Linked DNA regions of Homo sapiens: region 2 is linked to region 1. Evidence: fine-mapped expression QTL. A gene starts in region 1. The other region holds a variant in brackets. All regions are shown on one strand. Distances are between the middles of the regions.

Region 1 (5,375 bases):
ACATTCTTGAAATCACAAAATGTACCATTTTACATTTTGGAAATGGGAAACAGGTAAGTGGTTTCAAGAGATTAGAGATGGGGAAGGATGCACAGGGGAAACAGGTGTGGCTACGAAAGGGCAATATGAGGGATCTTGCGGTGGTGGAAATGTTGTGTATCTTGACTGTGTCAATGTCAATATCCTAATTATGATATTTTACTATAGTTTTTGCAAGATATTACCAATGAGGGAAACTGGGTGAAGGGTACTTGCAATCTCTCTGTATTATTTCTTACAATTGCCTACAAATCTACAATTATCTCAAAATGAAAGTTCTAATTTAAAAAGCGACTCTTGATCAAAAGATACCATTAAATGAGTAGAAGATACTTGCAGTCTCTAACTGACCAAGGCATGGTAGCAGCTAGACTTTATAAACAGCTTTTATGAATCAATAAGAAAAAGTCAGCTCAAAAAAATGGGCAAACATTTGAACAGGCACTCAGAAAACAGAAAACTCAAGTAGCCTATAAACATATGTAGAAGTGCCCAATTTCATTGGTAATTAGGGATATGAAACGAAGATCACAGTGAGACACCATTACATCTCCGCCAGACTGGCAAAACATAAGAAGTCTAATAATATTATATTTTGGCAAGGATGCGGAGCAATGGCAATTACCGTACATCTCTGATGGGAGTCTAAATTTTGTGGCCACTTTGGAAAACAATTTGGCATGATCTAATAAAACTAAATATATGCATACCCTATAGTCCAGTAATTTCACCCCAAGGTATACATCCTAAAGATTGCACTTGCATACCAGGAGATATACACAAAAATGTCATTAGCAATAGCACTTGTAATAGCCCCAATGGGAAAAACCCAAATATCTAAAGTGCCAGAATGGACAAAGAAATTGTGATATGTCCATACAAGGGAATATTAAGTAGCAATGAAAATGAATGAACTACAACTACATGCCACAAAAGTAGATGACTCTTACAACCAAATGGAAGAAGAGGCCAGGCACACACAAAAATATGCATGCAATATTATTCAATTTATAGAAAGTTCAAAACCAAGCAAAACTAAACTGTAGTGGTTAGGGATACATTACAAATTGGTAGAAACTATAAAGATACGTAAGGAAGTAATTACCATAAAGTCAGGATAGTTGCTTTAGGGGGAAGGGAAGGACTTGTGGAAGGGAATTGGTGGAGCAGGGGAACCTCTGGGGTGGTAGCAATGACCTGGGTGGTGTTTGGTTTATGATTCATTAGGCTATGAAGGTACGTTGTTTTCACTTTTCTGTGTTACAGTTTATAACAAAATCACACGTCCTCTTCATATTTCATTGTTTTGCCTTTGAGATGAGGAAGAATGTAGGCACGAGCCTTAACTGTGCTGAGAAAAGACGGCACATGAAAATCTGAGCTCAAAATGTAAAACCTGTGAGTAGAGTTAGAGTAAAAAGTGGAGTGTGCTGCAACAACAGTAGACTTGCTGGAATGATGAGGTGGTGGCTTGCCTTGGGATTTTTGTTTTTTAACAGTGTATTAGGAATAATAAGGTTGCTCCAGGTGCTAAATTTCTTACTCCCCTTCTTTAGAAGTTGGACCTAGGCTGAGGGTCCACAGTTTTTAAATGTTTTGGAGTTTTCTGTTTTTGTTTTTCAAATGGATTCCCTGATCACCTTTGCCTTGAATCCCCAGAACTAACCTGCCTAAGAAGAGAGGAAAACTGTTGATGTAGTGGGAACGCTCCCTCCTCGAGCATTAACCGGGTTGACCCCACCCCTCTGTCCTCGCTGTCTTCAGTCCAATCAAGATCGGAAAGCAGGATCAAGAGAAAGATGATCAGACCGGAACAGGTAAACGTTCCATATAGAGATGCTTCGGAAGTGCGGAGAAGTGACAGCTTATCCCCTCTCAGGCCGTCATGTTCTCTCAGCAGACCCTCTGAATTACTGATGTCAGAACTTATTGGCTGGGCTACAGCACATAAGCAACTCCTAGAGTTTTAAGACATTAAAAGAAGGTGATTTCAGACAAGAAATCTAGCGCACCATTCAGGTTTCTCCTCGTGTCGAGGCATTGCTTCTCTCCCTTCCTGCCTCTTCCTGCCAGACTTCACCGTCACAGCTCTAATCACACCCTGACTGATCTGATCCCGCCCTGCCACGAGGCCCGGGTACCCCTCAGCGGCGGGGACATCCAGGTGTCCCTGGATTTCCAGGGCACAGTGCGGGCCGGAAATAGGAACACAGAGGAGCCCTTCGGGAGGCTCTCGAGGCAGTCTCTTTCCAGTGGATAGCGACACACCCTGGTCCCTAAGATTCTCATGCTCTCCGAATTTTCCGTCCTGGACCCGATCTGTAGGGCGCAAAGTCCCCTGTACTGAGGCGTTCCCAGGGCGCCCGCCTCCCGCGTTTACATTTCTTAGGCAAAAAGGCAGCGGAGCTAAGCAGGGGTGTTTGGAAGGCGCCCGTTGCGCTGTTTGACTGCGTGGCTTCACTTGGCCCGCGTGCATCAGCCTCTCTGGCGGGGGATTCTCCCCGGACTCCGGCCAGCGCCAATCAGGTCGCGCGGTACCTGCCCCCAGCCCTGGCCACCTGGAGGGGCGATGAGGCTCCACGCCCGGAGCAGGGCAGTCCTCGGAGCGCCGGGGAGGCCGCGGAGCCTCACGTGTGCCGCCCCAGCCGCTGGCGCCCGGAAGGACGCGCTGCGACCCCGTGGGAGCCGAACGCGGGAGTCGCTGCCCGAGCGGAGCTGCTCAGCCGCGGTAACGGGTCGGGGCCTCATCGTGCAGGGGAGCGAGCGGAGGGGCGGGGCGGGGCGCGGGCGGGCTGAGGAGCCGCCGGGCTCGGGCTCCGCGCGGGGATGTGTCTGGCCACCGCGTACTTTCGAGGGCGCCTCAACACCCGGGTAAGCGCGCCCCGGCTGCCTCCCTCTGCCCACCGCGCCGCCTTCAGCGTAGCAGTTCCCCACTGGGTCTGGGTCTGCGCCCTGGCTCTCCCTCTCCGCGCCAGGGGCCTCTCGCTCCGAGGGGCGCGGCGACTCGGGGGCATCTCCGGCCTCGTGGCCAGACCGCGGGTGGCGGTGCTCGCGCCTCGGGGCCGGACTTGCCGGGTCCCTGCCCCCGGGCCGTGCCGAAGGCGCTCTACTCAGCGTGTCTGCAGCGACCCGCTTCTCTGCGCTTTCAGCCGGGCCGGACCTCACGCGGACGCCGCTGCTGCTGCTGCGCCTCGCGCCCGCCGCCACCCGGGGAGCATGAGGCCGGGGCAGGGGACCCGGGTAGGGTGGGGGCCGACCGGCGGGGTCTGCTGGGCCAATGCGCCGCCGTCGGTCAGTGAGTCCGGATTCGTGCCGGCAACTGTGGGCAGCCTTGAGACCGGGGCTCGGTTTGCTGGTGATTTTTCCGAAGTTTTACAAAATAAAGAGGGCGAAGTGCCTTCGCGGCGCGGCGTGGGCATGCAGGCGGCAGGGCCTGTGGGAGCCGGCGTCTCGGCCAGCGAGTCTGGGGCCAGGACAGCGGGGGTAGGACGGAGAAGCCGGACGTGCCCGTGGGGCCGCGGTGTCCTTGCTCCCGAGGCCCCAGAGCGGGCGACCGCACTCCGATTCCAGAGGGCCCTGCGCGCTCAAGGCGCCGGCCACACGGAAGCCTCCGCCCCGCGGCCCAGAGGGGGGCCTGGCCAAGCAGAGAGCAGAGCGGGCAAGCAGAAGGCAGTGTGGGGACGAGGCCCGCATTGGGCTGCTGGGACCCCGCCACCCGGCCTGGCCTGGGTGGGGCGGGTAGAGGCCGAGAGCCGCGCGCCGGGGCCCTGGGTGGGTGGCATCCTGGTTCTCTGCGGCTCCGAAGGCCGCGAGGGAAGTCAGGGGTGCAGATCTGTTCCCTCGGTCAGCGCCCTTTGGCCGACACACACCAGCCGTGTTTTCCTGTCACACTGGGGGTTCCTTTCCTCTGAGTGGAACTGTGGGGCCCTGGAAGTTTGCTAGTCCTGGCAAGTTTGACGTGACGGGGACGCAGTCATCCAACCTGCAGGCGGAGGCCCGCAGGCACTTTCTCCTGTCATTTCGCCCACCTGGGCCCTCCCCCAGGGCGCCCAGGGGGCCCCATCCTGAGATTCCGAGGGGGCCGCAGCGTGGCTGGCAGGACCGACGTCTGCGCAGTTGCGTCTGTGTCCTGCTTGGTCCTCTAGCAGCTGAGCCAGACACATGTTTTATGTCGTGTGGGAGACAAACAATAACTGCGGGCTTCAATCCCGCATGTTCGCTTTGCCTAAGATTCGCTGGAGTCTGTGTCCTGAGGGGAAAGGCAGCTTTCCTTCTGCCCTAATGAAATACTTGCATGTAACAGACGTTCAGACCCTGAAAGAGGTGGACCCCGGGGAAGGAACAGTAAAGGTACATGCTCTGAAAACAGATTTTCTTAGCCTTCTCTAGGGAGGTTTCAGTTCCCATGCCTAAGAGAATCTAAACCAGCAGGTACAGACAGGGTCATGCTGGCGTCCAGAGGGGAAGTAATGTGTGGCTCTCGGAGGGTCCTGCTGGGGCATCAGGCAGATCGGCAGCGGCCCTGCCAGGGCTAGAGATCTGCATTCAGTGACCTCATCAGGCATACTGTTCTGGAAAGGCAAGGTGAGATGGGCTCGTGCAGATGAGAGCAGGTCCCCCTGTTTGGCCCAAGAATCTCTGTTTTTTCTCTAGCTTGCCGTCTGTAACTGGAAATGACCCCGGCTTAGTTCAGGGAGTGCTTCAGCCTGAGTGCAAACATCAGCTGGTAACAGGGGAGCCTGGCCCCAGCACAGTCCAGTCCTCACCCAGAGGCCCACGCTGGGATTTTCCTGATCTGCAAACTTTACAAGGCTGAGGTGGATGAGAGGAGAAGTTGGGAATCTTCTGGGTGGCCACTTAACAAAAAAGTCATTTGACTCTGGTAGGGCCATTCCAGGGTCTGTCCATTGTGAAAAGTGCCCTGGGGTTTAGAATCTGGCCTGGTGATTATTAACATTAATGAAAGTTGCTAACATTTATTAAGTACCTGCTATGTGCCAGACACAAGGTTTTGCAAAATTACTATTATTTCCCCATTTTTCGTGTGATGAAACTGAGTTTGGGGGTAGGGTAAACGATTTGCCAAGATCATAAAGCTAGTTAATGGCAGAGCAGAGCTTGAAGCCCAGGTCTCTTTGGTTCCAAAGTCACTACTCCTTCCTCGGGGCCACTTTCTTCCAATTAAGAACAGACACACATGTGGTAGCTGGAAATCCAGAATTGTCGTGAATAAAGACTCTTACTTGTAGATCCAAGAGATATTTATAACCCCATTAGACTCTAGACTTCAGAAAGTGCTGGCCTGGTAAACAGCCAGCACTTCCTTCTCTCTGTCA
Region 2 (5,375 bases), 21 kb after region 1:
AAATGTTAGCTATGCTTATCTCCAAGTGGACAGAGTTATAGCAAATTTTAGTTTTTATCTTTTACGTAATTTAACATTTTTCTAATACACAAGTATTACTTTTATGATAAGAAGCAAACAACAAACAAAGCTGCTCTAGGGATCTGGTTGGCAATGTTCACAAGAGCGATTGACCTCTGGCTGGTGACCGTGACTGCACATTGTAGACACAGCAGTCTTTTTCTCCAGGAGGACTGCAAGCGAGACTAATTCATTAAGTGCTTTCAGTCCCGAAGATGACAGGAGCCAGGAAAGCATAAAGTCTTGTTACTACGACAGCCGGTAGCCTTGATGTCTGTGTCTTTATTTATTAACTGGACTTTATGTATCCATCCTCCCAGAAGCTCCAAGAGCTTCCCAGCTGACTTTGATACAGATCACATTCTCAAAATAGTATAGTCCATCAGTCAGAATAAAGACAGGGCCGGCTCAACGAAGGATTGAAACTCCAAGAACACTGTCCTAAGAGGCAAAATGAATGTGGGAGAGAATGTTGACTGGGGTCGGTGAGGTGTTAGGATAATCGAGTATTGAGCAGCAAACTGGATTTTTGGGTCACTTCCTTTAAGCTAATAATGATTGAATGCCTTTTTTTTTTGCATCAGCTATTGAGTATAGCTCTAAACACATTCTTCCCTTTTACCTCACAGCAGTTCTGGGAGGAATTATTCCCATTTTAGAGCTGTTGAAACGGAGACTCAGAGAGAAGGAATTGCTGGTGAATCACAGAGCTTGTGTTTTAACATCGTTTCTGCACTGAACACCCCCCACTCCTCCACTTCCCTACTGAAAGGGTGCTGCTTAACGGCCAGGAATTTTAAAGCTTGGAAAATGTCCCATTGATTTTGGCAGGAAGCAGATACCAAATGCTCTTGTTGAATGGATGGATGGATGAATGGACAAAAGAAAGAATGATTTTAAAAGGTCATATAATCGTATCAAGGCAGGGAGAGATAATCATGTTAGAAACCTATCTCATAGATAGCTGCTACAAATGAATGTGGCAAGAATTCAATGGTTCTTTCTGTTTTCTACCCAAGATTTATAAGTAGATGCCTGTAATGGGAGTAAACATCAGGAGAGTCTTTTTTCCAGGGCTGCAGAGAATTGGGATCATGCTGGGTATGTGGGTCAGTCAGTCCTGTCACGGTTTGGGAGAGGAGAGGTGTTCACCTGGTTGCGCTCCTATGCACAAGGCTAGATGTCTGCTGTTTTCATTTGCAGATTGCTTACAAGGTCCTTCCCTGTCCTAGCAATTTGCCTGCCTCACCCATGGTCTAGGGACACAGAGGAGAAGGAGGCCCAAATGGCACAGCTTCTTGGGGCACATTTGAGGGAAATGCTTTCTTTTTTTATTCAAGATTATATCAAGTGAAGAGCTGGTTTTCACCAACTTCAGGAATGCTCAAGATGGGTTATTGGGTCAGCAAATAGACACTGAGGGAGGCTTCGGCTCACATCTCTTAGCTCCTTAGTCATCCTCCTTGCTGTGCAAGAAAAGGCTTGAATATACCTTCTTCCAGCTCTGCATTAGCCAGCAAGGGGAATGAGGCCATTGTGAACACACACTGTGGGGGCCTAGGAGAGAAATACTTCAGGCGACATGATGATGGTCCTTATCTTCCAGGAGTTCCCAGGGTAGGGGAGGAAAAAATAATTTTCCTTCTGCTTTTCAGAGTTCATAGCTGGGACTCTCTGTAACAAAAGACAAATCGACAGGAGAAAAACAAATAGAAATTTGTCAACATGTATACTTCATCTCTACATGGGAGATACTTAGGGAAAAAATAAGTAAATCTCAAAGAGGCAGCTTAGAATTCAGGCTTAAACACCATCTTCAGCTAAAGGCAAAAGAAAGAAGGGTGTGGGGGAGGCCAGTTATGGGGAGATGACCAGGCAAATTATCAGAATAAAGTCTGTTATGCAGATGTAAGCCTGCTCCATTAGTAAGACCTTCTCGTGATTTAGCCATGCTTCTCTTCCTGCTACAGACACCCTTACAAATGGTGATTTCCTTTATAGATGTAACTTTCCCTTACAAAAGGGTAACTTCTACTCTCTTTTCAGAGCTTCTCCTGTATCTGTTGTTTCTCAAAATAATCAGCTCAAAATCATCCTTATGCCAAAGAGGCATATTTTGGCATGGCACGTTCTGGTCTCCTACAACAGCTTCCTTGGACAGAGAATATGCACTGACTGTAGCATTACAGAGCAGTGCCATCGAAATAATTGTAAAAAACTTGTTGTGAGCAAAGGGGCTGAAAAACACCAGACTGGCTAGTTTCTTCTGAAAAATGAAGGCAGCTGGGATGCACTCTGCTTTTTCCTACTTTCCTGCTCTAAGGATGTGTAATTCTTTAATCAGAAGTCTAATAAGGTTAATCAGGAAAGACCTGAAGATTTAGCTGATTTCTGAGAAAGGGCATAGGAGACTTTGGAGGACTATAAGCTCAGCCTGAGAGGAGACACAGGGTTTCTGGTGGTAGGTTATAGCAAGTCCCATTTTACAGATGCAGAAACTGAAGGCCAGACCTCCTCCCCAAAATGGCAGAGAAATCCTAATGCTTGGACTTGTGCAATGGGTACAAGACAAGTGCCTTCCCTTGGCTGAGGAGAGTTTCTCTCCTAGAGGACTTAGCTGGGTGTGTGGAGGAGTCTGAATTCCTCCCCTTGAATTCCTTCCACTGCTTCTTTGCCAGTCCCATCCAACTCGGATGGGGAACTGCTTTTAAATATTATTTCTCAAAGACTACACACACACAAAGAGAGACAGAGAGAGAGAGTGCATGCTCTTTGTATTTTATTTGGGGAATCATAAC[A/G]ACTCTCAGGTGAAATAGAGAGCTGAACCAATCAAGCACTCTTCCCAGGGCTCAAAAGAAACAAGTGTCACAGAACTGGCTGGCAGCACTGCAGAAAATAGATGATGGGAACACCTGTGTGGGTGTGGGTGACCTTGACAAGGGAAACACTAGCCAGTATTTTTATCTGCCCACTTTGTCTCAGGACGTTGGTGGTGTTGCATCCACTAGCAACAGGCTCTGGTTTATTCTCATGACATCTGGGCAGAAGGGGCGGGAACGACGAGGCAGATAAGAATATACCCATTTTGAGGAACAGAGAAACTGAGCCATGATTGGGGAGTGAAGCTTGTTCAAAGTCTCGTGGATAGACTTTGGGGTTCTTCAAATGGAAACAGGTTGTGCAACCTCTCATTCAGTGCTCCAGCAGCTCAAATTCTGTACTCTCAAAGATTTCCTATTAAATTTAATTTACTTTCCTTCTGTTACCCTTCCATGGTAGATGAGGTATTGATAGGGTAATCAACTTGTCAAGGACTCTCCCCATTTTATGACTAAAAGTTTGAAATCCACAGAATCCCCTCGGTCCTCGGCAAACCAGGATGGTTGTTCGCCCTAGAGGTATGTAACTGCTTCAGAGAAACGGCTGTTGGGGGAGAGCATTTCTGGAGGTGGTCTCACATGTTCGTTAAGAGCATGGGCTCTGGGCACATGCTAGGGTACAAGTCCCAGCTCTGCAACACATCCCTGTCACCTGGGGCAAATCACTTGACCTCTCTGTGCCTCAGTTGCCTCATTTGTAAAAAGGGGGTAGTGACAATCTGTACCTCAGGAGGTTGCTGTGTGAATTATATAAAGCCATACGTGAAATGCTCTTTTACTTAAAATAGTGCCTGTCTTATAAGAAGAGCTCAGTAATTGTTAGCCATGATTACTTTGTCAGCATCTGCCTGTTGATGAATCACAGAGATCGCGGGATCTCAGAACTGATGGGCTGCCTCCTTAGATTTCATCTCAGTGCCCCCCAATTTAAATGCACTCCACACGTTGTAGCAACCCCCTTCCTCGTCCACCTCTTCCCTTTCTTCCTCGCCCCATGGCTGCCGCTGGTGGAGGCTGGTTTGCTCTGTGTCAAAGTGGATGTCACCCCACTTCACTTGTTGGCAGGATTGAGGGATGGCAGGCGGGTGGGATGTGATCTCCAAGTGCAGTACTCTCAGACTTGAACATGCACACACAGCACCTGGGCATCTTGTTAAATTTTGTTAAATGTGGATTCTGATTCAGCAGGTCTGAGGTGGGGCCCACAATTTTGCATTTCTAATAAGCTCCCAAAGATACTGCCGGTTTGGGACCACTCCATGGGCCACAAACATGTGGCCAGGCCACATCATGTGTCAGCCTGTGGGAGTCTAAGTAAAAGACGGTAATATTCTTGCCCAGCTGAGGACCCTAAAATAGAATTAGTGCTGGGGACAGGGGTGGGAGTTGCTTAGATATGCTTAGAGTGTTTGAGGGGAGCAGCTTAGAGAGTGGTGAAGCCATCGGGGCATGAAAGGTCTGTGGGGCTGATGCTGAGATCTGTGGTGAGTATTGTAGGTAAAGTTAATAACAACTGGTTAAGGAATTGAGCTTTGGGAATTTTTTTTTTTTTTTTTTTTTTGCTGATTTTAAATATCAGAGCTGGTTCGAGACTATTGCTTAGATAGTCTTTCTCTCTCACATCCATGGTTTTGCTCTCTTGAATGGTGGACAAAGGGTGTAGTGCCCCCCAGTGCCTGGGAATGACACATGGTCAGTGTGACTACAGGAGGTTCAGAATGGCTGGCCTGAAATGACAGAAGTCCCCAAAGCTGGGCCTCCAGGCTCCCTACCCAAAAACTCCCTCACAGAGAGTGACCTTGCCTAGGAGGGATCTGATACTTTCTCAGCCACCTTGGAAGGGCTCTTACAGCTCCATGATGGATGAATGGACAAAACTGTCCCAAACAATCTGGGTTCCAGAAATAAGCCTTGTTCAGGCTCAGAAAACAATACCCCAAGATGAAGGCCTCAGAAGCACAAGTTTTTCTCTGACTTTCCCCTACATTCCTGTCTCTCAGTCCCATTTTGCCCCAAGTCCAGCCATAGGAACTAGAATCTCTCTTCCCCAAGACAGGTCATAGAAACCAGAACCCCTTTTCCCCAAAGCCAACTATGAAACCTAAAAATATTAACCTAACTTGCCCTCCGCTTTCCCATAAAGAAATTATCTGACCCACCTTGTTTGACTGTAGGTCATGAGACCCCCCATTCCAGAGAGGGCCCTGCTCCACACCCAGAGGAAGGACTTCATGCTCAGAGGGGCCAAGAAGAATCCAGACCCACAGGCCTGGCTGGGTTTCCCCACTCAGTCTATTCACATTAGATCAGACCCTTTGTGTCCAATCATATTTCTACACAGCTGCCCATACTTTGTTGAACCTAAGCGTAAAAATGAACAATTTCCCCTTGTATCTTTGGGTCTTCATTCTGAAGGCTCCCAGATACACATGTTAA

Which allele goes with the higher level. Positions count from the first base shown, and alleles are read on the strand shown. Sizes are in standard deviations (SD) of each study's normalised expression.
With allele A in place of G in region 2, the expression in cerebral cortex of the gene that starts at base 2,635 in region 1 is lower (small effect, 0.32 SD a copy in GTEx).

What was found. PIP is the estimated chance that this variant, and not a neighbour inherited with it, causes the effect.
Region 2: its variant is fine-mapped to the expression of FAM163A in cerebral cortex (GTEx, PIP above 0.99).

What each region holds. Positions count from the first base shown.
Region 1 is chr1:179,740,657-179,746,031 of GRCh38, forward strand. FAM163A (family with sequence similarity 163 member A) reads left to right here and starts at 2,635. Exons shown (of 5, transcript NM_173509.3): 1 at 2,635-2,767. LOC128071543 (a long non-coding RNA gene) reads left to right here. Exons shown (of 2, transcript NR_138090.2): 2 at 1,699-2,041. RefSeq lists an enhancer at 3,932-4,624.
Region 2 is chr1:179,761,200-179,766,574 of GRCh38, forward strand. All of the region lies in intron 1 of FAM163A (family with sequence similarity 163 member A), which reads left to right. Among named protein-coding and RNA genes, the nearest start is that of FAM163A, 21 kb to the left of the region's middle. The variant A/G (reference allele first, on the strand shown) is at 2,859.